4 linked regions of the Homo sapiens genome follow. The protein of the gene in region 4 interacts with the protein of the main gene of each other region in a pairwise test. Each region holds a gene or a part of one and is shown on either strand. Other genes may lie near its edges.

Region 1 (7,066 bases), on a different chromosome or scaffold from region 4:
AAATAGAGAAAGGACAGTATAAAATACTCATCTGTTTAAAGTGTGCCAAAAATATTTGGGCAATTATAATTTAATTTTTAATATTTCTAATACTTATTAATTTCCAAGCAATTAAAGAGAAACACATGCTTTATTTCCAGACTATCTAAATGAATCATATAAACTAGCTATGTATAAGGATTATTAGTCTCTGAGCATATGTTTTAAAGCACAGATTCAAAGATTAAAATACAAGTATGTTAGAAGTAAAAAATTTCAATGGAAGTTTACCTTTAGGGAAACACTAAAATAGCTCTGGTGTTGTGTGACCCTTAGGTAGGTCTACATCATCACACCTTGAGGGAGAATCTGTCAAGGATTCAAATAACTGTAAGAATCATTTTTTCTCTGTAAAACTAGGGAATACAGGCATTTCCAATGAGAATTAAAATAATTTTTATCTGTATGGGTAGTTTATTAAAGTTGGATTGTTTTGGTCAGAAAGTTGATAAAAGAGTTAAAATACTATTGATGTTTTCATCTATATTAGCACTGATATATAAGGATATTACAAAAATAATGCTAAAATGATCTTTTCTTTATTTTTCATTTGGTTTTCATTTTTTGTGTAAGTGTATATATACACCCTTAGTGAGTTAAGAAAAATTTGAAATTCCATATGAATCATTAGGGAGGCAGTGATTCCATCAAGGAGGAAGTAGATTTTTTGAAGACATCATCAAGCTGCAATTTAACGTTCCTACTAGACACCAAATAGAAACACAGCAGCATTGTTTTTTCATGTAAAAAAAATGTATAAGGTGGTTTTTCTGTCATATGTCATGCCATATATATTATACAACTGAAATTTTGGAAGAGTAGTAGAATCAGAGGAATATTCCACATCAGTTACTTCACAGGCAGCAACCAAAGAAATATTTTATATAAACAAAGAGAGACGAGAGAGAGACTGTTTTAAAAAATACAATAAAAAATACAACAGTTCAGTGTAATGTTTGCAAATTACAATTTATACAACGGCCTTTTTGTAGTTTTGCAGCTTCCACAAATAGTATATCTCACAAAAGCTGAAGTAATCCATTAACACAATACTTACAATGTTTAGACCTTAGACCAAACTTTAAATTCCTTAACCCTGGCCTACAGGCATTATAAGAAATGCCCCCTAATGATCTCTGTTACTTTATCAATCATCCCTCTCCCTTACTACATTCTTGTCATCCTGGCCCCTTTGCTGTTCATGCGACAATCATTCTTGCTCTTGCCTGGTAACGTTTGAACTACGTCCTAGGATGTTTCCCTCCAGACATTTGTATAGTTTACTTTAACTTCATGTACATCTCTATTCAAATATCACCTATTTAGAGAGGCTGTCCCTGCCCACTCTACCTAAAATAGTTATCATCATTTATGCTTCATCTTCTTATCCACATTTTCTTCCCAGCAATTTTCACTGGCTATTTGCAAACACATATTTGTACTGTTTGTGTCCTCTAGTTCTCCCTGATTATTATGTAAGCTCCATGAGGATGGGTATAAGGTTTATTTTCACCCATAAAAGGGGCAATTGAAAAAATAAATTACTAAATATTGATTTTAATTTTATGAATTCTTACATTTTAGTGGGAGACTGACACTATTAACCTGTTCCAGGAGTTTATCCTTAGATAGTGCTTCATATTTTTTCTTGGTATGTTACTAATAAATCCATGGGCAAATAAGTATTCTAAAAGCTGTAAATATTATGTTGAGTTTTCCTTATTACGATAAATATTTAGCCATATTGCATAGGGTGTGTTCTTCTAAAAGCTCATGTTTTAACATGTCTTATCAATTACAAAAATGACTTTAAAATAATAAATATATCTTTAATTAAATTATTTAAAACTTTAAGTCAATCAAATCCCAAGAGACTTTGTAATTTCATGCACAAGATAAACTGTATTTTTTTGCTTAATTGAGCTAAGCATTTGGTGAGCTCAGTCAATTATAAATGTTAATTATAAACATCGATTTAAAAATCAGACTTGGGTCTGATATTTTGAAGTTCAAAGCAACATTTCTTGCTTCTTCAAATGCAACTGAATTCTGGAATATTAATGTTCAATTCAAGTAATTGAATAATCCAAATTTAAATTATTAAAAGGTTGGTATTATAGAGATATACACATATATATTATTCTTAGATATAAAAATATTGAAAAGTGAGGCTACCTCTATATTATAATGTTTCTTCTGTACTTTACTATTTTAGCAAAATCAGAATCAATGTCAGTTTATATTTTAAGGTAATTATTTTAAAAGACACATAACTAATTTAAAAGAGCTTTTTATAGCTAAGCTATTCATATAAATAATATTGAGTTATAAAATACAGACATCAAAAGGTTGTATTGCATAGCTAACAGCAAGAACTAATTATTAACACCTATTTGAAATACAGTACCTTAACTATCGTGAGAACTTTTATTGATATTTTTAAATCAAATGTTTCTTATAACAAAATCAATATAGCATTTTAAATAGATAATTCGACCAATGCCTGGCAATCGTCTGAATACATGAGACCAAGAAAGATTGAGGATAATCAGAAACTGATTCATATGTTGTTCTGTTGATTCCACCTGTAAACTTGTTTATTCAACGTTAATTCCTTGAAGTATTAATGTGTAATTAATACTCCAGAATTAATTCTATAATCAATGACTATTACATGACAAAGACAAAGATAAACAGTATTACGTTAACACTATTTGGCTTCTAGTGTCTTTTATCTTTTAATATATGCAAGCCAACATACAGAAACAAATCAACTTATAATATTTAATCCATGTTTTAGGGAAAAAAATCTTTCACCATTTCCTAGAAAGGAAGATTGGACTCAAACCAAAATCTAGGAACTTTACCTGGATGTATCTTATAGTTATTATTGATTATTGACTGCTGTGTGCATCCATTTTCTCACTCGTAGATGGAAGTGTCTGTTGCATTTTTCCTACGCTTTGGGTGTGTGGGAGCCAAAAACTTTATTCTTTTAGTTCACAAGTCTTCAGACCAAGAGTAAGTACAACAAAGGATAGGACTTTCCTTTATCTGCTCCTGGATCTGATTTAGCTTACAAAAATATCCTGTGTAAGAAGCCTGAACCTGATGCTATATTGATATGAGACTATTGTTTGCATTGGAAGGAAAAAGTGTATATTTCATGTCAGAGGAAACAAAATTTATTCCCAACGGAAAGGATGTGGCTATTTTTAAAAAATTAGCAAATACTAGGTACATTTCTCATTAAAAGTTGATGTGTATGGTCCACACCCTCCCCTCCATCCTCACTCCACCTTGAAGTAAAACAGGCTTGTGCCTACCTTGGTATTGAAAATTATATAATATAACTTCTAATACTAGGTCATAAAAGGCCATTTACTTTCTGTCTTGCTTGCTAGAAATCCCACTTTTGGAGCATTAAGCCACCCTTTCATGCTAATGCCAACAATGCACCTAGAGGCCATAAGTAGGCATTCTGGTAGACAGTCCTAGAGTACCTTAACCTTTTCAAGGCTTCTTATAAACTTTGTGTTTATAAGCATGAATTAGCTTTATCCTTAGGGCAAGTTTAGCCTTACTTAAAACAGTGTAGCTTTCCTTGGATCTTGTCTGAATGTTGCAAGTGTTCAATGAGGATTCTACTTTCTGGCTGTTCCAGTCTTGAAAGTTTCCAAATCCTACGTGAAGTCTTGGGAAACTTCAATTCACAATTCCTCCATATATGCAAAACCTACACAAATGACATATGAGGTTCTTTTCTGTTATAATGAAGAAATTAAGTTTTGAGCTTTGTAGCCAAAAAGAGACCTTTCCATGAACTAATACATCTCTCCCTCTAAGTGCCAGTCTTTCAAAATACTGGCTAGACGTTATCATTTCAAACATTATTATTATTGCAAATAGGGGAACTAGTTTTAATATGCTATCTTGTTGACCTAGTAAATATTTCCAGGTATAATTGATTTACAATAAGAGACAATACAGCGTAATAGTGAAAAACAGGCGCTCTGGAGCCGGACTGGATTTAAATCTTTGCTCTAACCCTTACTAGGGAGGTGAATTTGGCCATATTACTTAACCTCTCTGTGCCTCAGTGTTTTGTCTCTTGAAAAGGGGTGGGGGAGGGGAGATTATCACAGTATCTACCTCACTGGGTGTTTCAGGAAAGTTAAATTCATAAATATAAATAAAATGCTTAGCACAGCAACTGGTAATTAGTACTGGGAGTTTGCTGTTATTATTATGCTATTGTTGTTATAATTAATGATCTGAAGAATAACCAGAGCTCTATAGGTTTATCATGATTACTAATGAAGATGCCACTAAAAAAAAGAATTCAGGAGCATCTTGGCGGTGGCAGCGAGTTTGAAGATGCGACGATCAACGTTGAAGATCACCGCTCGCAACCCCGGGCCTGGCGCCGGGTAGGGGCGCGGCGCTCGATTTCCTTCCCTGCCTCCGCCGTCCCCCTGGTGCGCATGCTCAGCTCAGCTCGGCCCTCGCCTTTGATTTATTTTTTTTCTGGGCGGCCGCTGCGACCCGGGACTGACTTCGGGATGGGAAGTGGAGCCCCCGGAGCTGCTACCGTGGCGGCGGCGCTGTGAGGAGCAGCCAGGGGGAGGCAGCTGCGGCTCGCCGGTGAGTATCCGGGAAGCGCCACCATGGGGCTCCGTAAGAAGAGCACCAAGAACCCCCCCGTTCTCAGCCAGGAATTCATCCTGCAGAATCATGCGGACATCGTCTCCTGCGTGGGGATGTTCTTCCTGCTGGGGCTTGTGTTCGAGGGAACAGCAGAAGCATCCATCGTGTTTCTCACTCTTCAGCACAGTGTTGCTGTCCCTGCAGCAGAGGAACAAGCCACGGGCTCAAAGTCCCTCTATTATTATGGTGTCAAAGATTTGGCCACGGTTTTCTTCTACATGCTGGTGGCAATCATTATTCATGCCACAATTCAGGAATATGTGTTGGATAAAATTAACAAGAGAATGCAGTTCACCAAAGCGAAACAAAACAAGTTTAACGAGTCTGGTCAGTTTAGTGTGTTCTACTTTTTTTCTTGTATTTGGGGCACATTCATTTTAATCTCTGAAAACTGCCTGTCAGACCCAACTCTTATATGGAAGGCTCGTCCCCATAGCATGATGACATTTCAAATGAAGTTTTTCTACATATCCCAGTTGGCTTACTGGTTTCATGCTTTTCCTGAACTCTACTTCCAGAAAACCAAAAAACAAGACATCCCTCGTCAACTTGTCTACATTGGTCTTCACCTCTTCCACATTACTGGAGCTTATCTCTTGTACTTGAATCATTTGGGACTTCTTCTTTTGGTACTGCATTATTTTGTTGAATTACTTTCCCACATGTGCGGCCTGTTTTACTTTAGTGATGAAAAGTACCAGAAAGGCATATCTCTGTGGGCCATTGTGTTTATCTTGGGTAGACTTGTGACTTTAATTGTTTCCGTACTCACTGTTGGGTTTCACCTGGCTGGATCGCAGAATCGGAATCCTGATGCCCTTACTGGAAATGTAAATGTGTTGGCAGCTAAAATTGCTGTTCTGTCGTCCAGTTGCACGATCCAAGCCTACGTAACATGGAACTTAATTACTCTCTGGCTTCAGAGGTGGGTAGAAGATTCTAATATTCAGGCCTCATGTATGAAAAAGAAACGGTCGAGATCTTCTAAAAAAAGAACAGAAAACGGAGTGGGAGTGGAAACTTCAAATAGAGTAGACTGTCCGCCAAAGAGGAAAGAGAAATCTTCATAATCTTTGCAAGCGCATTGATTAATGTCTGCAAAGGAATCTGCTCTTTGAGGTTTCTTTCTGCACTAGAGATTTTTCTGTTTTTGAAAATAGTTCGTGCTCTTCGGTTTTTGTTATTGAACTGTTTCATGTATTTTTTAAAGACATTTGAGGGGAGGAGGATTATTATGAATGGGAAAAAAAGATTTTGGTTGAGACTAAATTACTCATCGTCAAAATAATGTCAAAATAGTTTTGGGGATCACCACTATATTTTGTTTTGATTTTTAACCTTTCAACATTTTCCTAATGATTTGCAGAGATAACTGCACAATTTTGCATATCAATGATACTGGTTCTTACTCCCACCAGTGTTTCATAATACTAACAAGATGGTCTCTCCTAGCAAGATTATGTGTTTAATGCTTGCTTTGGGGTAAAATAAAAGTACGAAAAAGGTGGAAGTCAAATCAGTATTCTGTAATTGTTAGAATTTATTTTTTAAGAACTTACAACTCAGAAAAGATTGCTAGACTCACCAAAATAATAAATGTTCTTTATTTTACAGGTAGTGATTATTAGTGCTTCATCCCCATTTAAAAAAACACAGTACTAATGGGTAACACATATGGAGGTTTGCTGCCATATATATTGCATCAAAATATCATTAATTAATATAAAAATATTAAAATCATTCCTGTCCATTCCACTTGTAAATGGGAATTCATGAAATTAAATATTACTTTAAAAAGGACATTGAACTTAGTCTTTTTTAAAAATGTTTATTAAAAATGATTCCTAATGAGGCCTTGTAAGATCAGTAACCACAGCATCTTAGAAAAATATTGTTTGTATACCAGGTTGAAAAATAATACTTGGCATGTGTATAAAAAAAGTCAGCTAATTACATTTGGAAAGCATGTTATGCATCAACCTTCAATAAGTTGAAAATCAGATAGTCACATGAAAGGCTTTTGAAAAATAATGTTGTGATTATTTGTCTTCATCTTTAATTGGGGAACATTTATCTGTATAAGACATATTTTGAAGATTATTTACATACACATGTATGTATAATCTGTATCTTTGCAGAAGCCAATGGAAACAATGGGAATTAGTGGGTGAGTATTTATACGTATTGCCTCTCAATCCTTATTTCAGTTTTATTTCCATAATGTGTTTATATAATTTTTCAGTAAGACAGTACTTTACAAATATGCTAGGGGAAGGCCATATATTTCCTATTCCGTTATATTTTCTCCTACTATGTCTCT
Region 2 (7,034 bases), on a different chromosome or scaffold from region 4:
ATAGATGGTAACACTTTGTTAACTAGGATCTATTATCCTCCCAGTAATGTCTCATAATAAAAAGTAATTTATTTTTCCATTGAGCATTCTCTATCAATAATTGCTTTTTTGTTTTTTGGGTGTTTTGTTGTTTTTTTTTTTTGAGATGGAGTCTCACCCTGTCCCCTAGGCTGGAGTGCAGTGGCGTGATCTCGGCTGACTGCAGCCTCCGTCTCCCAGGTTCAAGTGATTCTCATGCCTCAGCTTCCCGAATAGCTGGGAATACAGGCACTGGCCACCACGCCTGGCTAATTTTTTTTTGTATTTTTAGTAGAGACGGAGTTTTGCCATGTTGGCCAGACTGGTCTTGAGCTCCTGGCCTCAAGCCATCTGCCTGCCTTAGCCTCCCAAAGTGCTGTGATTATAGGTGTGAGCCACCGCGCCCGGCCAATAATTGTTTATTGTTTTAAATGGGAGTTTATTCTAAGATCAGTAATAATGCTATTACAATGTGTTAGCTTGAATCATATGAAATTGCCATGTTGAGACTGAGAAAAAATCAAAATCAGCAGTCTTATATATTATATAGTTAAACCACTCTCAACTCTTACTGGTTTCTTTTGGTATTTACCTTTATACTTATTTCATTTTTAATGTTTATACTGCTATTTCTTAGCTCTTCACTTTTGGATATTCTCTGTGGACTTCTATTTTGGAAGTTGAAGACTTAACTGTCTCACATAACTATCCTTCCATTTCCCACTCATACTTGACAGTTAGGTCGGTATTCAGGATTTATATGACTGACAGTGTACCTGTTATTCACAGTTGAGCCACGTAGGGTGCTATTACTGTGTTTTCTTCTTGAACAACTTTTGTTGCTCCTGAATTAAATAATTGCCTCTTTTGTTTGTTTGGTTTTCATTTGCTGAGTTTTCTTTGTATCAGTCACTAATTCATTCAAACTCTATGACAAAACTGATTATCTTTGAATATTCTCAGGTAGTCACTCACTTTCATATCTTTTCCCCAGGAGATGGTCCTGCTGGAGCCCCCTCTCTCCTACTCCAGTCTGGAATTGTTTGCTCCCTGGACTACTGCATAGCCATCATCCTGGGACTTCCCTTTGTCATCATCTTGGGAATTCCCTTTGCCTTCCTCCTGTGTTAGGTCTTCTATTTCCTGGACCCTGTGTCTTCCTTATTCTTGAGTAGCTTCCTGAGAAAGGGTACATACAAAATCTGAAATTCCTTCCTGAATTCAGAAGTTACATGTCTGGAAATGCCTTCATTTTACCTTCACTCTTGAATGGTAGTTTAGCTTGGTGTTAAAATCTGGATTGAAAATTAATGTGACTGTTTTGAAGACATTGTTCCATTAGCTTCCAGTGTCACTATTGAGAAGTCCAATGTCATTTTAATCCTCATTCCCTTTTTCTTCCCACTCTGAAAGATTTTAGGATCTTCAGTTTATCCCTGGTGTTCCTGACATTTCATGATGTACCTTGGAATAGATATTTTTCTTTACTTTTGCTTGTGGGGTAGATTGTATTTTCCAAAAAGGCTGTATATGTATGTGTGTGCATACTCCCCCCATCTCACCCAATATGCTATTCTTTGTGCCTCCATCAAGCAGTGGGGTCTTTGTTTCCTCCTCTTGAACCTGTGCAGACAGGAATTCTCCCCCGAACGTTTTGGATCTTGAGCATTGTGTTTTAAGAGCACAGCTGCAAGATCAAGAACATGCACCTGGCACTGCTAGGTGCCCAGCGCCATCAGGCCAGCATCTCCCTTCCCATTTTCCTTGTGACCACTGTTTAGGCATTGAGATTAAGCACTGTAGATGTGTATGTGTTCATTGAGAGAGGGGATTAAGTTTTTTTACTTTTAAATGAAATCAACAATGAAAATATCAATTGACATCAGAGAGAGTTTCTTTTAAGCAGTGAAATGAACCAACATGACGGCTGTCAGGTGCATTTTTTAAAAATCCACCTTAGGAAATGACAAAAAAAGAAATGACCAAAAAGAAACTAACTTGAGCTTCATGATTAAATATGTCATTATTAAATGTGACAAATATATTGTTTGCAAGAATTTCTGTGATGAGAAGATGGAAGCAAAAGGAGCTGCATAAATCACAGCTTCACAGAACATTGTCAGTATTTTTGTGTTTATCTCATGGATACATATTATTATTATTATTTTGAGATGGAGTCTCACTCTGTCACCTAGGCTGGAGTACAGTGGTGCAATCTCGGCTCACCACAACCTCTGCTTCCCGGGTTCAAGCAATTCTCCTGCCTCAGCCTCCCGAGTAGCTGGGACTACAGGCGTGCGCCACCATGTCCAGCTAATTTTTGTATTTCTGGTGGAGACGGGGTTTCACTATGTTGGTCAGGCTGGTCTCGAAATCCTGACCTCGTGATCTGCCTACCTCAGCCTCCCAAAGTGCTGGGATTGCAGGCATGAGCCACCGCATCTGGCCTTGTTTGTTTGTTTGTTTGTTTGTTTGTTTGTTTGTTTGTTTGTGACAGGGTCTCACTCTTTCACCCAGGCTGGAGTGCAGTGGCGTGATCTCGGCTCACTTCGACCTCTGCCTCCCAGGTTCAAGCGATTCTCCTGCCTCAGCCTCCCCAGTTGCTGGGATTACAGGTGCCCGCCACCATGCCTGGCTAATTTGGATACATATTTTTAAAACATCCTTTGTTTACTCTTTAAAAATTTTAAAATTAAAAACCCTTTTTTTTCTATTTATAGCTGCTTTATCATTCATTTGGCTTTTCCATGACACCACCCAAGTGGCTGGATATTACAAGAGAACTTCAGATTCATGACCAAAAATCCGAAGTAGACACTCAGCACTGCCCGGCAAAGCTACCATTGAATCTTAATAAGATCTTTTTGCCTATCACTATTTCATAACTTCTCTCCACTCCTTAAACTTATCAGCAACCCACCCCTCCTACTCAGATAAGCTGACCTCATAGTTCATTGAGGGTTTAGGAGATATCAGACAGAAACCACTCATCTTCCCCCCAACCAAATGTAGAAATCTGCCTTCCTTAGACCCATGTTTTCTGTCTCCTGTCGGAGGCAAGCTCCCCTTTCTACTGTGTTCCTCCTCACATCTTCTATACCTCATGCCCCCTCATATCTCACAGCTTTAGCATTTTTGCCCTCTCTCTTGCATCATCAGCAACTCTCCAGGGGGCTATCCATGTCAGCATACACATATGCCGTGACGTTGCCCATCTTTAAAATCAGAATAAGCTTCAGCAAACAACTTTTCCCTGACCCTCCTCTATCCCTTTCTATTTACCTACATGGTTAAGTCTCTCAAAAGAGAAGTTTACGTGCCTTCCCTACCTCCTCTATAGTACGTACCACCCTCTGAAATTCTGTTGTTTAATAATTTTTGTGTGACTTACCCCTAATAGAAGGTCAGCTCCAGGAAGGCAAGGACCTCATCTGTCCTGTTTACCACTCTGTCCCCTAGGACAGCAGGTGGCACAAGTGTCTACTCAGTACATGGGCAAAAGAGGCACAACTGACCTGGTAAAATAGCTTTTGATTTTTAAAAATTTCTAACAAGAGAATCCATGTTTTTTAATTACTCACCATTTTTTGCTACACTTAAGAATTGAAACAATTATGAAGAATATATTAATGATCAAATTTTGCCCTATGTTACATTTCATTCTTTCATAAGTATGACTTAATATTGGCAGTCTTGGGCCGGGCATGGTGGCTTATGCCTGTAATCCCAGCACTTTGGGAGGTCAAGGCGGGTGGATCATGAGGTCAGGAGTTCAAGACCAGCCTGGCCAAGATGGTGAAACCCCATCTTACTAAAAATACAACAAATTAGCCGGGTGTGGTGGCGGGTGCCTGTAATCCCAGTTACTCGGGAGGCTGAGACAGAGAATTGCTTGAACCTGGGAGGTGGAGGTTGCAGTGAGCCAAGATTGTGCCATTGCACTCCAGCCTGGGTGACAGAGCGAGACTCTGTCTCAAAAAAAAATATATATATATATAATATATATAAATAATATATATATAATATATAATATGTATAATATATATATTATATTATATTATATATTATACATATTATATATTATATATTATATATATTATACATATTATATATTATATATAATATATATATTATACATATTACATATATAATATATATATTATATATATAATATATATATTATACATATTACATGTATAATATATATATTATATATATAATATATATATATATTTGCAGTCTTGCACCTGGACTCTGGCATCAGACTGCTTGGAGTTGAATTCCAGCTCTTTCACTTTTTGCTATGTGACCTCCAGCAGGTTTCCTAACCTCTCTCTTTCTTCATTTGTAATGTGGTTAATAATAGTTCCTACCTCATGTGTTTGTTTTGTGTTCCAAATGAGATAATATGTAAAACACGAAACTCAGTACTCGTCTTGGGAGTAAACTCAATGAAAAATAATAGTAATTATTATAGCCTCCTCCAGTTTATAATATTTGACTCTGACTTGGTCTCTATAATATTTTTGTTCAAAATACTATATCTCCTAGGGTATATGGGCTATCAATATGATGATTCAGCTGTTCTTGGTTTTGTGGGGGGCGGGGGTGTGTTTGTTTTTAAGAGAGAGAGTCTTGTTCTGTCGCCCAGGCTGCAGTGCAGTGGTGTGATCTCCAACTCACTGCAGCCTTAACCTCCAGGGCTCAAACAATCCTCCCACCTCAACCTCCCAAGTAGCTGCGACCACAGGCACACACCAGCATGCCAGGCTAATTTTTTTTCTTTTTTTTTTTTTTTTTTTGTAGAGACAGGGTCTCACTATGTTGCCCAGGCTGGTCTCAAACTCCTGGGCTCAAGTGACCCTACCAGCACCTCCCAAAGTGCTAGGATTACAGGCAGGAGCCACCATGCCCAGCCAATAAATCATTTTGATCACTTGATAAAATATTTTTATTTCAAGCCAAGTCCTGTTCTTTGTTTATTTGGTTTTCTCAGAGGTGAGGTTCTTTCTTCATGTTATTCCACATTAAGTTTTCTTATTTCTGGAAATGGAGCTTTAAAAACACCCAATATATCATCAACAGATTTTTTTTTCTTTTGAAACAGCTATAAGACAATGTTCTTTTCATCTACTAGCTAGCTGGGAGGGTAAATATATGTAGCAGTACGAAGTATATTCTGAGGACCACATAAAAAATACAGACAGGCTCTGTAGAAGTTCAGGCTAGGGAGAGTCAGGTACTTCTAACCCTAAGGGATTCCTACAGCTTTTCTGCATGTTAAATAGTCTGTTTTAGCTTATTCTCTTATTACTTGTCTTGGTTTTTACTTTGAAAGTTTGCTTAATAATCATGGGAATATTTTAGATTTTAAAATACAAAATATACAAGCTAAACTTGAGAGCAGTTTTTAGTTGTAGAAACTGTTTCTTGAAGTAATTGACTTAGCGTTTGCTCTGCCTCTTTCTTTTCTTACCTAGGTAGGTAGTGGGGACTCCTTCAATTATCTGAGCAATTCAAATCTCAGAATGTAGTGTTGGGTAAATTGAGGGTTCTAAAAGAATGCCAGATGGTTTGAAAGGAACTGTGAGCATTCCAACTAGTGCAGTCCTTTGAAAGCCAGCTGGCAGAGCCTCCTGTGCTTTGGAGGTAGGAACCAGACACTTTGTTCCATGCCAGCTGGCCCAAGAATAGCTGGCCAGTGGCCTTGCTTTTGGCTGGCCACTCTTGGGAAAGCTGGCCTGGGCCCTCCATGTGCCCTAAGGATAGTCTGATACCAGAGAGTTGCACTGGCCCTCCATAGTACCCCAGGGAGTTGGAGAAAGCCTGCAGTGGCAAGGGAAAGGAAACTGCTATTTAGATAATGTTACAAGTGAACCTCGTGTTACAAATTTGCTCTGGAAATTTAATGTAATTTGAATTTTTATGGATTCACTACTGTTAGGTGTATTAAAGTTGCAATGAACTGTAGTGAATGTTTTTATATTGTAAGTAACTTCCAGGTTACCTGCTTTTAAAGTTCCTGTTTTTATTTGTCAACTTTTCTTAAAGTGAGGTTTGCCCGTTCCTTTTGTTGTCATCTTCTAAAGTTTTGATCATTTGAATTAGGAAAATTTTTCCATCTTGTTGTAAAGCTTGCTCCTGTGTAAACCATAGACTTTTTTTTTTTTTTGAGACAGAGACTTGCTCTGTCACCCAGGCTGGAGTGCAGTGGTGCTCTTTCTGCTCACCGCAACCTCTGCCTCCTGGGTTCAAGCGATTCTTCTGCCTCAGCCTCCCAAGTAGCTAGGATTACAGGCATGCGCCACCACACTCAGCTAATTTTTGTATTTTTAGTAGAGACAGGGTTTCACCATGTTGGCCAGGCTGGTCTTGACCTCAGGTGTTCTACCCGCCTCAGCCTCCTAGAGTGCGGGGATTACAAATGTGAGCCACCACACCTAGCCATAAACCATAGATTCTATAGAAGGTTAATTATGTATGTAGTCTTAGCTTGTCTCTCATTTTGATGGTACTTATGTTTTCCCGATTAGACAGGTGCTTGTATCAGATACAGTTCTTCACTTCCTTTAGCAGATTTAATATCATAATTGTTTAATTGACAGCAAAATAAGTGCAAATATCATACTGTAAGAATAATGAGCATTCAGTTCATTTGATGACAGTGTTTATTGAATTCTCAAAATTAATAGTTTCACTGCTGTCTATCAGTATGCTTTATGTTGCCTTAATTTTTTTTTCAAATGTGCAGATTGAATGGTGCTGCAGTATCTGTTAAGTTTATTAAGTTCATCTTGGCAAACCAAAAAAAAATTATAGCTACCTGTATCTCTTTATTGTTCCTTCCCAAATCTGAGCATGTGAAATTATGCTCAGTGATATAAATTTGAAATAGAACCTAAATATTATATCTAAATAGTCTCTTTATCTTGGACTGAATGAAAAAAGTTGACAGATAATGAAACGTCAAATTATGAGTTAATGTAGTTTGTGGGAAATGGGTGGGAAGGGAAATC
Region 3 (7,536 bases), on a different chromosome or scaffold from region 4:
AGTTAATGCCTAGAATAATGCTTGGCACATTATGACTTTCAAAAAATGGTGAATAACAAAAGAGGATGATGGATTAGAGTTATCAGTGGAGTAGGCAATTGTCAAACTCTCTTTTCCTAGAGTTGGCTTGAGTGGAAATACCATTGATGCAAAGCAAGCATAAAATGGTAGAAATAGGTACAAACCATCAGTGACTGGCAGGAAAAGGAAAGAGGGATTACGGTAATGAAAAAAGAAAAGAGAGGCAAGGGATAGTTAAGCTCAAATATGAAATGTCTGGATACACATGATTATTACTCATGTTTAATTCCTAATCCAGACATTGAATTTTACATTATCTCCCTGTATCCTTTTATCAATTATAAAATGTGACAATTATTGGCTTTTTAGTCATATTATACTGTAGGAAATAATTGCTTTAAAATAACAATAACTTGGGAGGCTGAGGCAGCAGATCAGGAAGTCAGGAGTTTGAGACCAGTTTGGCCAATATAGTGAAACCCCGTCCCTACTAAAAATACAAAAAATTAGCTGGGTGTGGTGGTGTGTGCCTGTAATCCCAGCTACTCAGGAAGCTGAGGCAGGAGAATTGCATGAACCCTGGAGGCGGAGGTTGCAGTGAGCCAAGATTGTGCCATTAGACTCCAGCCCAGGCAACAATGCAAGACTCTGTCTCAAAAAATAAAAATAAATAAAATAAAAACAATAACTTAGCAAATAGGTTTTGGATGCTTAATAGCACAATGAAAGAAATATGCTTAAACTGTCAGGGAAATAATTTTCTTTTGGTATCTATATCTATATATGTTCTTTATGGTTAACTGCTTACTATTCTTTAAACATTACCACATTTAATAATCTATTATATAGCTACCATATTTGAATTCAATTATAACCTCCTTAAGCCTTTTGGTATTTGCTTCCTCACAGCCTTTTTATTTAATTAAGTTCATACTTTTACTTTATTACCAATGGATACAGTACTGGGCTTCTTTTTATATACATCATTGAGACTAGGGTAGCTCTGATACATGAGCAGGAAATGGAAGAGAGCAGGGGATTGAGGCAAATACTGTAGTTTTCTAGTGACAATCAGAAATCATTAGGGACTCAAGTGGCATTAGCAATGGCTGCTTGAAGCACTGTAAGGTTATCTTATCAGGCACAGGGGCTTGTATCTCATATGTTAAGGATTGCTGCTGCTTTCTCTAACCAGAGTTGTAAGGAAAACTAGGCACACATGAAAGAAAGACATTAAATCAATATTTTTTTCCTCCAAGACTGAGGATAATTCAGAGTGAGAAAGTAAAAATTAGTTCAGAGTAAGACTGTAAATAGCTGCTTGGTCATTAATTGAGCTGGGATAACAAACCCAGGTAAACCCTGCTGCAAAGTTAATGGGAAATAACTAAGTATATGCTGACACTATAAAGTATAATAGCAAGGCCCTTCTTTGAGTGTTTGCTTTCTAATTCACTGAAAAACTTTGTTCTCTAAAATCATATACTCTAGGAAAACTTGCTGCTTGAAATTACATCAGTAAGAATGAAACACCCTACTTTTGCTTGGGGGGATCTACATCATTTTCATACAAAGAAGCAGCCTCAATTAAGGGGCTCCTGAATACAACATTCCACATCTATGGTAACTTTGTAGTTTTCAAGAAACAGGATCCTGAGACTGTTCTACAGTCCCTATTGGATACATATAGTCCTGCTTTGAGTTTATCAAACACTGCTTCCTTTAAATTTCACCTAATCCCATCCTTCCCTAAAATTCTATAAATTTATCTTTTTTGTTTCCTGAGATACCTCTGGTGTTCAGTTTCCCTCATTGGAATGTGTTTTAGGTGGTTCTTGCAGTGCTATAAAGAAATACCTGAGCCTGAGTAATGCATAAGAAAATAGGTTTAATTGGCTCATGATTCTGCAGCCTGTACAGGAAACACAGTGCTGGCATATGCTTCTGGGTAGGCCTCAGGTAGCTTTTACTCATGGTGGAAGGCGAAGTGGGAGCAGGCACATCACATGGCCAGAGCAGGAGAGAGAGAGAAAGAGAGAGAGAGACTTTTAAAACACCAGATCACCTGTGAACTCAGAGCAAGAGCTCACTTATCACCAAGGCGATGGCCCAAGCCATTCTTGAGGGTTCTGTCCTCATGATCCAGAGCTCCCACCAGGCCCCACCTCCAACATTGAGGATTACAATTCAACATCACATCTGGGCAGGGACAAATACCCACTTTATATCAGAAGGCATCAGTAAGCTCAACTTTGTCAGACTATAGTTTGGCAGATTTGTCCTGTTGGTATTGGGCTAACTGGGTTAGGACAAAGAGGCATGAAAATCTAGTTAAGTTTGATGCCAGTGAAGTATAATAGTCTTTTGAGGCAATGAAAATGTATAAGAAAAGTAGGATTCAACAGCATGATGTTATGTGAACCAGAAATGCCACAAAAATGGCTCAGCAACATTTGACCCACCACTTTAATTGGGATCTCTGTGTGTGTGTGTGTGTGCGTGTGCGTGTGTGTGCATGTGTGTGTGTGTAAAATGCGCTTCCTCACCAGAAGGAATGATAGTTCCTAGTTGATTCTACCACCTAGGACAGGAAAAAACAAAACCTCTTGTTGCCAGAAATTAAAACATGCTTCAAAAAGCTAGTGCAGGCCAGGTGTGGTGGTTCACACCTGTAATCCCAGAACTTTGGGGGGCTGAGGTGGGAGGATTGTTTTAGGTGGGGAGTTCGAGAACTAGCCTGGGCAACAAAGTGAGACGCCCCCACCCACAATCTCTACAAGAAGAAAAAAAGACAAAAAAAAAAAAAAAGTAAAAACAGCTGGTGCAGACTTGAAAACAGAGGCAGGCTTACAAGTGCCTTTTGGAACAAATTGAGCATTTAGAAATTATACTTAATTGATGTAAGCTGACACTATAATGATAGTCCAAAATGGGACAAGATAAACCATACAAAGCAGTAGCTGTAAAACGAAGGACTATATGATATAATATTTTTAATTTTTAAAATTAATTTCACGTACATATATGAATATTGTTTAAATGTATGCATAAGTACATACACAGTAGAGAACTGAATAATTCTACTAGTGGAAACTGTATCAATTACAATAAGGGAAGATTAGCACCAGTGAGCACACTTACTACCAGGTAGAGGAAAAGTCCAACACTATTGCAAAATGAGATTAATCAAATGTCTGCCTCTACAAAGTCAACTCTGGTCTCCTGGGAGCCCCTCCCAATATTAATATGATGCTAATAAGGCATGCAAAATGTTCCAACAATGTTAACAGACCAGATATATCTATATGTATATTTAACAAGACAATGGTATACAACCAACCCTCTAAAAGGACAATTTTGGGGAAAGAACATGCTGCAGAAGGTGTGGGCTGCTGGGCAGCTCAGAATCTTGCATCCCTATTCCTGTAAGTGCTGAGGTATTTTCATATTATTTTAAACCAATCCACATATCTTGAACATCATTTATTTCACCAATGAATTATTTCTAATATCAATTATGATAGCTAATTAACATCCCCTAGTGAAAGTGGAGATTATAGTGGTTAAAATGCCTGTTGATATATCTAATTTTTTTTGTTTTTTGAGACGAAGTCTCGCTGTGTCGCCCAGGCTGGAGTGCAGGGGCGCAATCTCGGCTCACTGCAATCTCCCGGGTTCAAGTGATTCTCCCGCTTCGGCCTCCTGAGTAGCTGGGATTACCGGTGCGCGCCACCACGCCCGGCTAATTTTTTGTATTTTTAGTAAAGACGGGGTTTCGCCATATTGGCCAGGCTGGTCTCGAACTCCTGACCTTAGGTGATCCATCTGCCTCGACTTCCCAAAGTGCTGGGATTACAGGCGTGAGCCACCACGCCCGGCCGATACATCTGATTTTTTAAAGGCCGTTTTGTTGTGCGAAGATCATTAGTTAGAATGCCTGGCTGGGTAAATACAACCGATGACTGCTGACGATATGGAACAGGCACAAGACTTCTGAACGATATGTAGAATAAATTATAACTTATCTAGAACACAAGGTAACAGTGGAAGATAATGAGCCAGGTGGAAGTTACAAATGTTGCCGCAAGTAGTTTCTGTTACTTTACGAGTTCTGGGAGCTTCTCTAACAGCTTTGACAGGAGTGAATCCCCAAGGCTAAACCCAAATCCTTATTTGCCGCCTACTCACGCCTTTGTGAGGACTACGATTCCCAGACGGCAACGCTCCCTTCACTCAACTTCCTTAGCTGGCGGGGAGACGCAGTTTACAGAACTACCTCCCCAACCGAATTTCACACACCTGTCACCTAGGACGCGGCCGGGAAGGCCTCCCTTCGATCCGCGTTCTCCCCATTTTGGGGTGTAGCTTGGATTCCTGAGCCCAGTTTTAGTGCGTGGCCGACCGGGAGGCCGGCGAGGCGCTCTAGGCCGAGCGGCTTCGTCTCTATGACCACAAGGGGCGGTCCCCGGTGTCCTGCGCGGGGGCGCGGAGGGGGCGGGCGTCAGTTCCGCGGGGGGCTGTCGGGGAACCATGGCTGCCCCGAGAGGTGAGAACTGGGTCTGCTGGGAGTGGGGAGTCCGCGGGGGGCGGCGGCGGGCGAGCATCTGCGCTGGTCAGCCCCTGTCGGGCAGCGGAGCACCCTGGTTGCCCAGTGCCTCTGGGGCCTGGCTGAGGCGTCAGGAGTTTGCGTGGAGCCGCTCCCGGCAGTCAGGGCAGCCTGCCTTCCGCTGCGGCTGCAGTCTCCGCGGCTGACTCCGCGCTGGGCAGGTCGGAGTCAGAGACCGCACTGACCTCCACTAGCTGGGAGTGGGTGGGAACCGAATTCTGACAGGCCGGGGCTGCGGCGGACCCGGAGAGAGGCCAGGGCGTGGGTCCGGGGCTGGACCGCATTACCCAGCGAGGCAGGACAGTTCTTCACCCTGGCCCCGCGGCTCCGGTCTCCTCTGCGCCTCCTACCCTGTGGATGCTCAGAGGCTTAAAGGCAGGCTCCGGGCGCAGATCCCATGCGGCGGCTGGGCCATGCAACAACCACTAAAGACATCACTGGGGCGTCAAAACAGCACTGAAATCGTAACGAAAGGAAGATAACAGTCGTTAACAGTTCCCACCTGTATGCTGTGTGTAATTATAGAGAATGCTGTATGCTGCTATTTGGGGTGGAAGCTGAGATCCACCTCCCTCCTCCTGAGGGATGGCACATTCGGGTGAAGGCGTATTTGTTGACTAATTGACATTTAAGGAGGGCGAGTCTAATTGACTCCGCACCACTTTTTGCTGAGCAGTGTGTGTAAGTTGGGACCAGAGGTGGATTCTTTGACTGTGGTGCATTAACCAGGAGAAGTTGGGCAACACCCGGATTCTTGCTCCACCCTTCCTCCATAGAGCACTTGGCTTCACCCTTGAATAAATATTGAACGAATACATAAGGAATATCTTCTTGCGTGGGTTTCAAGTTATTTTCCCTGTTGCGGGGTCCATGTTTCTCATCAGGCCCTGCCCAGGGGCATTGTCTTTAGTTGCATATGCTTCTCTTATGTCTTCTTTCTGTTTCATTTCAAATAAGTCCAATCTTAAAAGCCTTTTTTTGTAGCAACACAGGAAATAAAAGAAAAAGAAATAGAATTGTTTTGATAACTAAAATGGAATGGGGATAGCAAAATTGATCCGAACGAAAACTTATAAATTACAGAAGTCAAATCATTACTTGAAATAGCTGCAACAATGTAAAGGTTTAGGCTTATTGCCAATACATATTTGTTGAGCCTTGATTGTAATCCTAACAAAACTACAGTTTCCATAGTTTCCGAATATCCACAAAGGATTTATCTGGGACTTACAGAATTTCTAAGTTCTTAAGTATTACAAATAATGTCCCCATAAACTATAGTAAAACATAACCGAAAAAAAACATTTTAAACTGTAAGTTTCTTTTGGGGGACATTTCCACACAAACACTATATGGGAGCTAATAGAATTTCGTGAGAAGCAGGGAACAATGCAGGGTTAAGATGTGGCTGCCAGTTGAGTTGTGGGCTAGCTTTATAGTTACTGGCATTGGGTGTGATTTGAATTATTTGCCCAATTTGAAGTGATTACATATGGACTTTTGCTGTTACCCTGAAATAATTGAAATTGCTAATAACTGAAGTTTTATACTGGAGAATTTGTGAATGGAGTGAACAAGAAATAGTTTGGTCTGATGTTAAACTGCCAGAGAAAATCGTACTTAAAAACATTTAGTATTTAAAAGTTGAAATACGTTTAAAAACTGGTATTCCATGTCAAAGCCCAATCTGTTTTGCACATACCTAAACTTATTTGATTACCCTTCCACTTAGATCAGTAGTTATTTTCAAGAATATAATATATATTCCCATATACTCACTATGCAAAAAGGTATTTTTTCAAGTTAATGACAATATTATAAGTCAGAATATGTTTGTAGGCTATCAATATTTGGTTTAGTGTTTAAATATTCACTTTGTTGTTTTTGGAATCAGGAACCTGTACAGTAGCTAAAATAAAGTACTTTTTAGTTTATCAGCCCTAACTTCTCTTATTTATGAAAGTGTTGATAATCTAGGACATGAGATGGCAAACTTTTCCTGTGAAGGGCTGGATAGTCTCTTGTCATAACTACTCAGATCTGCTGTTGTAGGGAAAAAAAAGTAGCCTGGATAATTTAGAAACAAATGAGCATGGCTATGTTCTAATAAAACTATTCATGGACACTAGAATTTGAATTTCCTGCAATTTTCACATATCACAAGATGTTATTACATTTTTTATCAACCATTTAAAAATGTAAAACAATCGTGAGTTCACAGGCCTCATGTAAACTGGCGACATATATAGTTTGTTCACCCTTTATCTAGAAGATGGGAAGTGCCTTCTCTTCTACTGATTAAAGGTTATTGCTGTATATTTTTGAAGTCATATTTCTTCCCTTGTGTAGGAAAGTTTTAGAACAAAGGAAGTATTATAGTGATCTCCTTCACTTCCTTTTATATAAACACTGATTTTTTGGCTCCTCAGATCTTTTGGAAAGAAAGTTTAAGCAGTTAAAAACTATTTCTTCTGTTTTACTTTTTATTTAAAACCTGATATGGTTTTTAAAAATTGCCTACAATTCAGAAAATATTCTTTAATGCACTCGGGAAAATATTTATATTGAAGAACCTGTTTCCTTGTAAGATCCAACCATACTGTATCTAAAGATAATCTGTTTGAAACTCCTGTTTTATTTCCCTATGAAAACTATCTTTGAATTGTGATTAGGCTCCCAAAGCAGTGAACAAAATCTTACTTAGCATATAATGTAGTTAAAGTAGCAGGCTGGAGTCACCTGGTGTCCTTCTGGTTCTTAACCTGGAGTTGTCAAAGTATGGCTCTGGAAAGCCTAAAATATTTGTTTCTGGCCCTTTGCAGAAAAATTTGCTGATCCCTGTTTAACCTTGAGCCTAAAGATTTGAATGGAGGTGAAGGGGAACTGGGGGACAATAGGTGGGAGGTGGG
Region 4 (4,915 bases):
CATATTGGGTGGGGAGGAATGATTAAGTAATGGGGGCCGGGCTCGGTGGCTCACACCTGTAATCCCAGCACTTTAGGAGGCCGAGGCGGGCGGATCATCTGAGCTGAGGAGTTCCATACCAGCCCGGGCAACATGGGGAGACCCGGTCTCTACAAAAAATACAAAAATTAGCCAGGTACAGTAGTGTGCGCCTGTAGTCCCAGCTACTTGGGAGGTTGAGTCAGGAGAAACACAAGCCCAGGTGGCAGAGGTTTCAGTGAGCTGAGATCACACCATTGCACTCTAGCCTGGGCGATGGAGCAAGACTGTCTCAAAAAAAAAAAAAAAATTAAACATGTGGAATAGCTAGATATTATATTAATGGGCTATTATCAAGAAAACTTACCTGGAAAAGTTTTATTCTACCAGCGTCACATTGAGTTGATATTAATAATCTTACGATTTTATACCATATCATGCTTTATACAACTCTTTTTAATCTGTTATCTCATTTAATCCCCCAGTAGCATTTTGAAATAGATACTGTTCAGTTGAGGAAACCAAAGCTAAGGGATTAAGTGCTTTGTTGAAAAGCACCGCAGGCCTGGCGCGGTGGCTCGTGCCTGTAATCTCAGCACTTTGGTGGATCACCTGAGGTCAGGAGTTTGAGACCAGCCTGGCCAACATGGTGAAACCCTGTCTCTACTAAAAATAAAAAAATTAGCCGGGTGTGGTGGCGCATGTCTGCAATCCCAGCTACCTGGGAGGCGGAGGTTGCAGTGAGCCGAGATCGCGCCATTGCACTCTAGCCTGGGCAACAAGAGTGAAACTCTGTCTCAAAAAGAAAAGCACCAGCAAGTTTGTGGCAGGAGTAGAACCTGAATCCAGGTCTTCTGACTGATGTTTATCCCCGTACACCTTACCTAACTGCAGTTCTTTATTGTTCCCATTCCCAGTTTGGATCGCTATTGGTTTTTATTACATATTTAGTTCCCTTTCCCACCTAAGTTAGCTCTAGTCACTGCATTCCTGTTATAATACTTCGATTCTGTTCCAGAGAGAAGTGGAGATCCTGATGTTTCTCAGTGCCATTGTGATGATGAAGAACCGCAGATCCAGTAAGTTTAGTTCACTTCTCAGACTCAAGGTTAGATCTAATGCCCTTTGGAGGTGCTTTGCTTCATGTTAAGAGAGTGGCAATCATTTGGTAAATTTGTCCTACGTTTAATTCCAAGGCTGAATTTGAACTTGGACTTCTATCCCCTCCCTGTCTCCTATTTCAAAGTGCCCCATGAAGAGGGACAAAGAATGGGATATAGGAGTGCACAGCCCAGCCTGACCTGTGACATCTCTGTGTTTCAGTCACTGTGGAGCAACATATAGGCAACATTTTCATGTTTAGTAAAGTGGCCAACACAATTCTTTTCTTCCGCTTGGATATTCGCATGGGCCTACTTTACATCACACTCTGCATAGGTGAGGAGACTGCCTTTCTTTCTTTTTTTTTTTTTGTAAGACTGTGTTGATAGACTTGATTGTGGAAACCACAGTCCCAACAGTTGCAATCCCAAACATGTTTCTCCATACCCTTCTTCCATATCTCATACCTAATGAATTATATATGTAGCTCAGATGATAACAGTTTACAGAGACTGTTATTGTAGAGGTAGGGAATGTGTTGGTGGTCTACATATATCCACAAGTGTGTATTATTTGGGGGCTGAAATCCTTGGGTTGGTTTGGAAGTAAATTCCCTGTGTAAGGCTTTTTATGTTTCCTTCGACATCTTCTTTCTGTATTTAGTGTTCCTGATGACGTGCAAACCCCCCCTATATATGGGCCCTGAGTATATCAAGTACTTCAATGATAAAACCATTGATGTGAGTGCTCTTTCCCCTTTCTGTTTCTTGGGTCCCTTGTGGGTGATTTTGTAGTTGTGCTCTCCATTCACTAGGAGGAACAACAGTGCTTCAAAATGGATGTCACGGGCACTGTGGTTCATTATGAGAGCCGGGGGAGAGGGAACACCAGGATGAGGAATTAGATGCTAAAGTCTGAACCTTCCCAGGAGGCTATGTGGATCCAGCTGACTTTTCTTCCCTGTATTTGGCAGGAGGAACTAGAACGGGACAAGAGGGTCACTTGGATTGTGGAGTTCTTTGCCAATTGGTCTAATGACTGCCAATCATTTGCCCCTATCTATGCTGACCTCTCCCTTAAGTGAGTAGTGCAAAGGGAGGGATGGTGGAAATGGAGATGCTGTGCCTTCCCTCTCACTGTTTTTGGCTTTTCTTTTTCTTTTGGCCTTGATTTTCACACATGGTAACCAAAGGCATCTCCCTCTCCCCTCTTAAATATCTATACTTCCACTTTCCTTGATCCATTATTTTTTTTCAGCATATTAAATAATATATTCTTTTCAGATACAACTGTACAGGGCTAAATTTTGGGAAGGTGGATGTTGGACGCTATACTGATGTTAGTACGCGGTATGTAAAGACCTGGGCAGAGGGTCTGAGCAGGGAAATCACTTTGAGTGATACATACAGGGACATTTAGAGAACTTTCTGGGCCCTGCAGGTACAAAGTGAGCACATCACCCCTCACCAAGCAACTCCCTACCCTGATCCTGTTCCAAGGTGGCAAGGAGGCAATGCGGCGGCCACAGATTGACAAGAAAGGACGGGCTGTCTCATGGACCTTCTCTGAGGTACCTGAAAGGAAGGGCAGGTGCATGAAGGGTGCAGAACAGTAGGTGGGCTTTCAAGCCCTACCCGGGTTTGATTCACAGCTCTGCCACTTGCCCATTAGCTTTGAGGGTGTGGACTAGTTACTAGACCTCATGTTTTAATTCATTTAGCAAATATATATTATGTGCAGACCTGCTAGTACTGGGTAACAATCATTAGTTAAGATTTGGTCTCAGGCCAGGCACGGTGGCTCACGCCTGTAATCCCAGCACTTTGGGAGGCCGAGGCTGGCAGATCACCTGAGGTCAGGAGTTTGAGACCAGCCTGACCAACATGGAGAAACCCCGTGTCTACTAAAAATACAAAAATAGCCGAGTGTGGTGGCGCATGCCTATAATGCCAGCTATTTGGGAGGCTGAGGCAGGAGAATCGCTTGAACCCGGGAGGTGGAGGTTGCAGTGAGCTGAGATTGCACCATTGCGGTCCAGCCTGGGCAACAAGAGACTCCATCAGGAAAAAAAAAAAAAGATTCTGTCTCGAAGGCCACTGCACCTATTGTCTGTAGGTGTTAGGTTCCCTGTCAGTTAATTGGAGGTAATAACCCCTGGCTTACAGGGTTGTTTTGCAGATTACATTAAATAATTTAGGTATAATTCTTGGCACGGTGATTGGCACATAATGGGTATTTAACTATTAGTTGACTTTTCTGGGTACCTAAAAAAGAGGAAGGTTAGGGAAGATTTTTGTCCTTTGCTTACTCCTTCCTTTCCCAGACTTTGTGTAAAATACCTCTTACTTCCCAGGCTCTTTACTCTCCCTTCCAACCCAGATCCTGACGTGTGCATCTCTTTTGTGCAGGAGAATGTGATCCGAGAATTTAACTTAAATGAGCTATACCAGCGGGCCAAGAAACTATCAAAGGCTGGAGACAATATCCCTGAGGAGCAGCCTGTGGCTTCAACCCCCACCACAGTGTCAGATGGGGAAAACAAGAAGGATAAATAAGATCCTCACTTTGGCAGTGCTTCCTCTCCTGTCAATTCCAGGCTCTTTCCATAACCACAAGCCTGAGGCTGCAGCCTTTTATTTATGTTTTCCCTTTGGCTGTGACTGGGTGGGGCAGCATGCAGCTTCTGATTTTAAAGAGGCATCTAGGGAATTGTCAGGCACCCTACAGGAAGGCCTGCCATGCTGTGGCCAACTGTTTCACTGGAGCAAGAAAGAGATCTCATAGGACGGAGGGGGAAATGGTTTCCCTCCAAGCTTGGGTCAGTGTGTTAACTGCTTATCAGCTATTCAGACATCTCCATGGTTTCTCCATGAAACTCTGTGGTTTCATCATTCCTTCTTAGTTGACCTGCACAGCTTGGTTAGACCTAGATTTAACCCTAAGGTAAGATGCTGGGGTATAGAACGCTAAGAATTTTCCCCCAAGGACTCTTGCTTCCTTAAGCCCTTCTGGCTTCGTTTATGGTCTTCATTAAAAGTATAAGCCTAACTTTGTCGCTAGTCCTAAGGAGAAACCTTTAACCACAAAGTTTTTATCATTGAAGACAATATTGAACAACCCCCTATTTTGTGGGGATTGAGAAGGGGTGAATAGAGGCTTGAGACTTTCCTTTGTGTGGTAGGACTTGGAGGAGAAATCCCCTGGACTTTCACTAACCCTCTGACATACTCCCCACACCCAGTTGATGGCTTTCCGTAATAAAAAGATTGGGATTTCCTTTTGATTGCGCGTTTGTGTGTTTCTGTATTAGAAAAGCCTGACAACTGCAGAGGAATTGCCCATCTTAAGGGCAAAGGCCATCCTATTTGGTTTCACCAAATGCCGGGCATTGATCCCCAGGACTGGCAAGAGTTGGAGAAGTCTAGTTTCCATAAATCTAGAATAGCGGCCACATGTTGTTAGGTGGTGGGTTTACTCTGGGATTGGCCTGCGGTTGCCAGGGAGGAGAGTTTGGCGGCAGATGGTGGCACACAACATTTAGCGCCATGCAAAGGTACAGAAAAGATTGCGCGAAGCGAGGCTAGCAGTCGGACCTAGTCTCCGCCCCTTCCTGCTGTGTTCACCATCCCAGCGTCCCCTGTCCCCTCCACCCGAAGCGATGGGTGGTTCCGTCAGGCGCTTCCCGCACCTTCCCGCTCCCTGCTTGCAAAGTGGTTGTGCCCCAAGGTCCGCCTCCAGGCCACGTGGGTGCTGCGGGCCAAGCTTTCCCTTCCTTTGAGAGAGGTTTCCGCTGTAG

What was found.
Region 1: the proteins of TMX2 (region 4) and TRAM1L1 interact in binary tests that used the Homo sapiens proteins (3 or more experiments, as listed by UniProt).
Region 2: the proteins of TMX2 (region 4) and RNF24 interact in binary tests that used the Homo sapiens proteins (3 or more experiments, as listed by UniProt).
Region 3: the proteins of TMX2 (region 4) and SLC35A1 interact in binary tests that used the Homo sapiens proteins (3 or more experiments, as listed by UniProt).

What each region holds. Positions count from the first base shown.
Region 1 is NC_000004.12:117,083,034-117,090,099, reverse strand, and holds TRAM1L1 (translocating chain-associated membrane protein 1-like 1), read left to right. Parts: upstream 1-4,523; 5' UTR 4,524-4,706; coding exon 4,707-5,816; 3' UTR 5,817-6,546; downstream 6,547-7,066. UniProt on the Homo sapiens protein: Stimulatory or required for the translocation of secretory proteins across the ER membrane.
Region 2 is NC_000020.11:4,005,525-4,012,558, reverse strand, and holds part of RNF24 (RING finger protein 24), read left to right. Parts: intron 1-7,034. UniProt on the Homo sapiens protein: May play a role in TRPCs intracellular trafficking.
Region 3 is NC_000006.12:87,468,453-87,475,988, forward strand, and holds the start of SLC35A1 (CMP-sialic acid transporter), read left to right. Parts: upstream 1-4,521; 5' UTR 4,522-4,551; coding exon 4,552-4,567; intron 4,568-7,536. UniProt on the Homo sapiens protein: Transports CMP-sialic acid from the cytosol into the Golgi apparatus, functioning as an antiporter that exchanges CMP-sialic acid for CMP. Binds both CMP-sialic acid and free CMP, but has higher affinity for free CMP.
Region 4 is NC_000011.10:57,736,572-57,741,486, forward strand, and holds the end of TMX2 (thioredoxin-related transmembrane protein 2 isoform 1 precursor), read left to right. Parts: intron 1-1,036; coding exon 1,037-1,097; intron 1,098-1,214; exon of another isoform or gene 1,215-1,341; coding exon 1,342-1,455; intron 1,456-1,782; coding exon 1,783-1,859; intron 1,860-2,092; coding exon 2,093-2,199; intron 2,200-2,402; coding exon 2,403-2,468; intron 2,469-2,538; coding exon of another isoform or gene 2,539-2,559; coding exon 2,560-2,689; intron 2,690-3,527; coding exon 3,528-3,674; 3' UTR 3,675-4,402; downstream 4,403-4,915.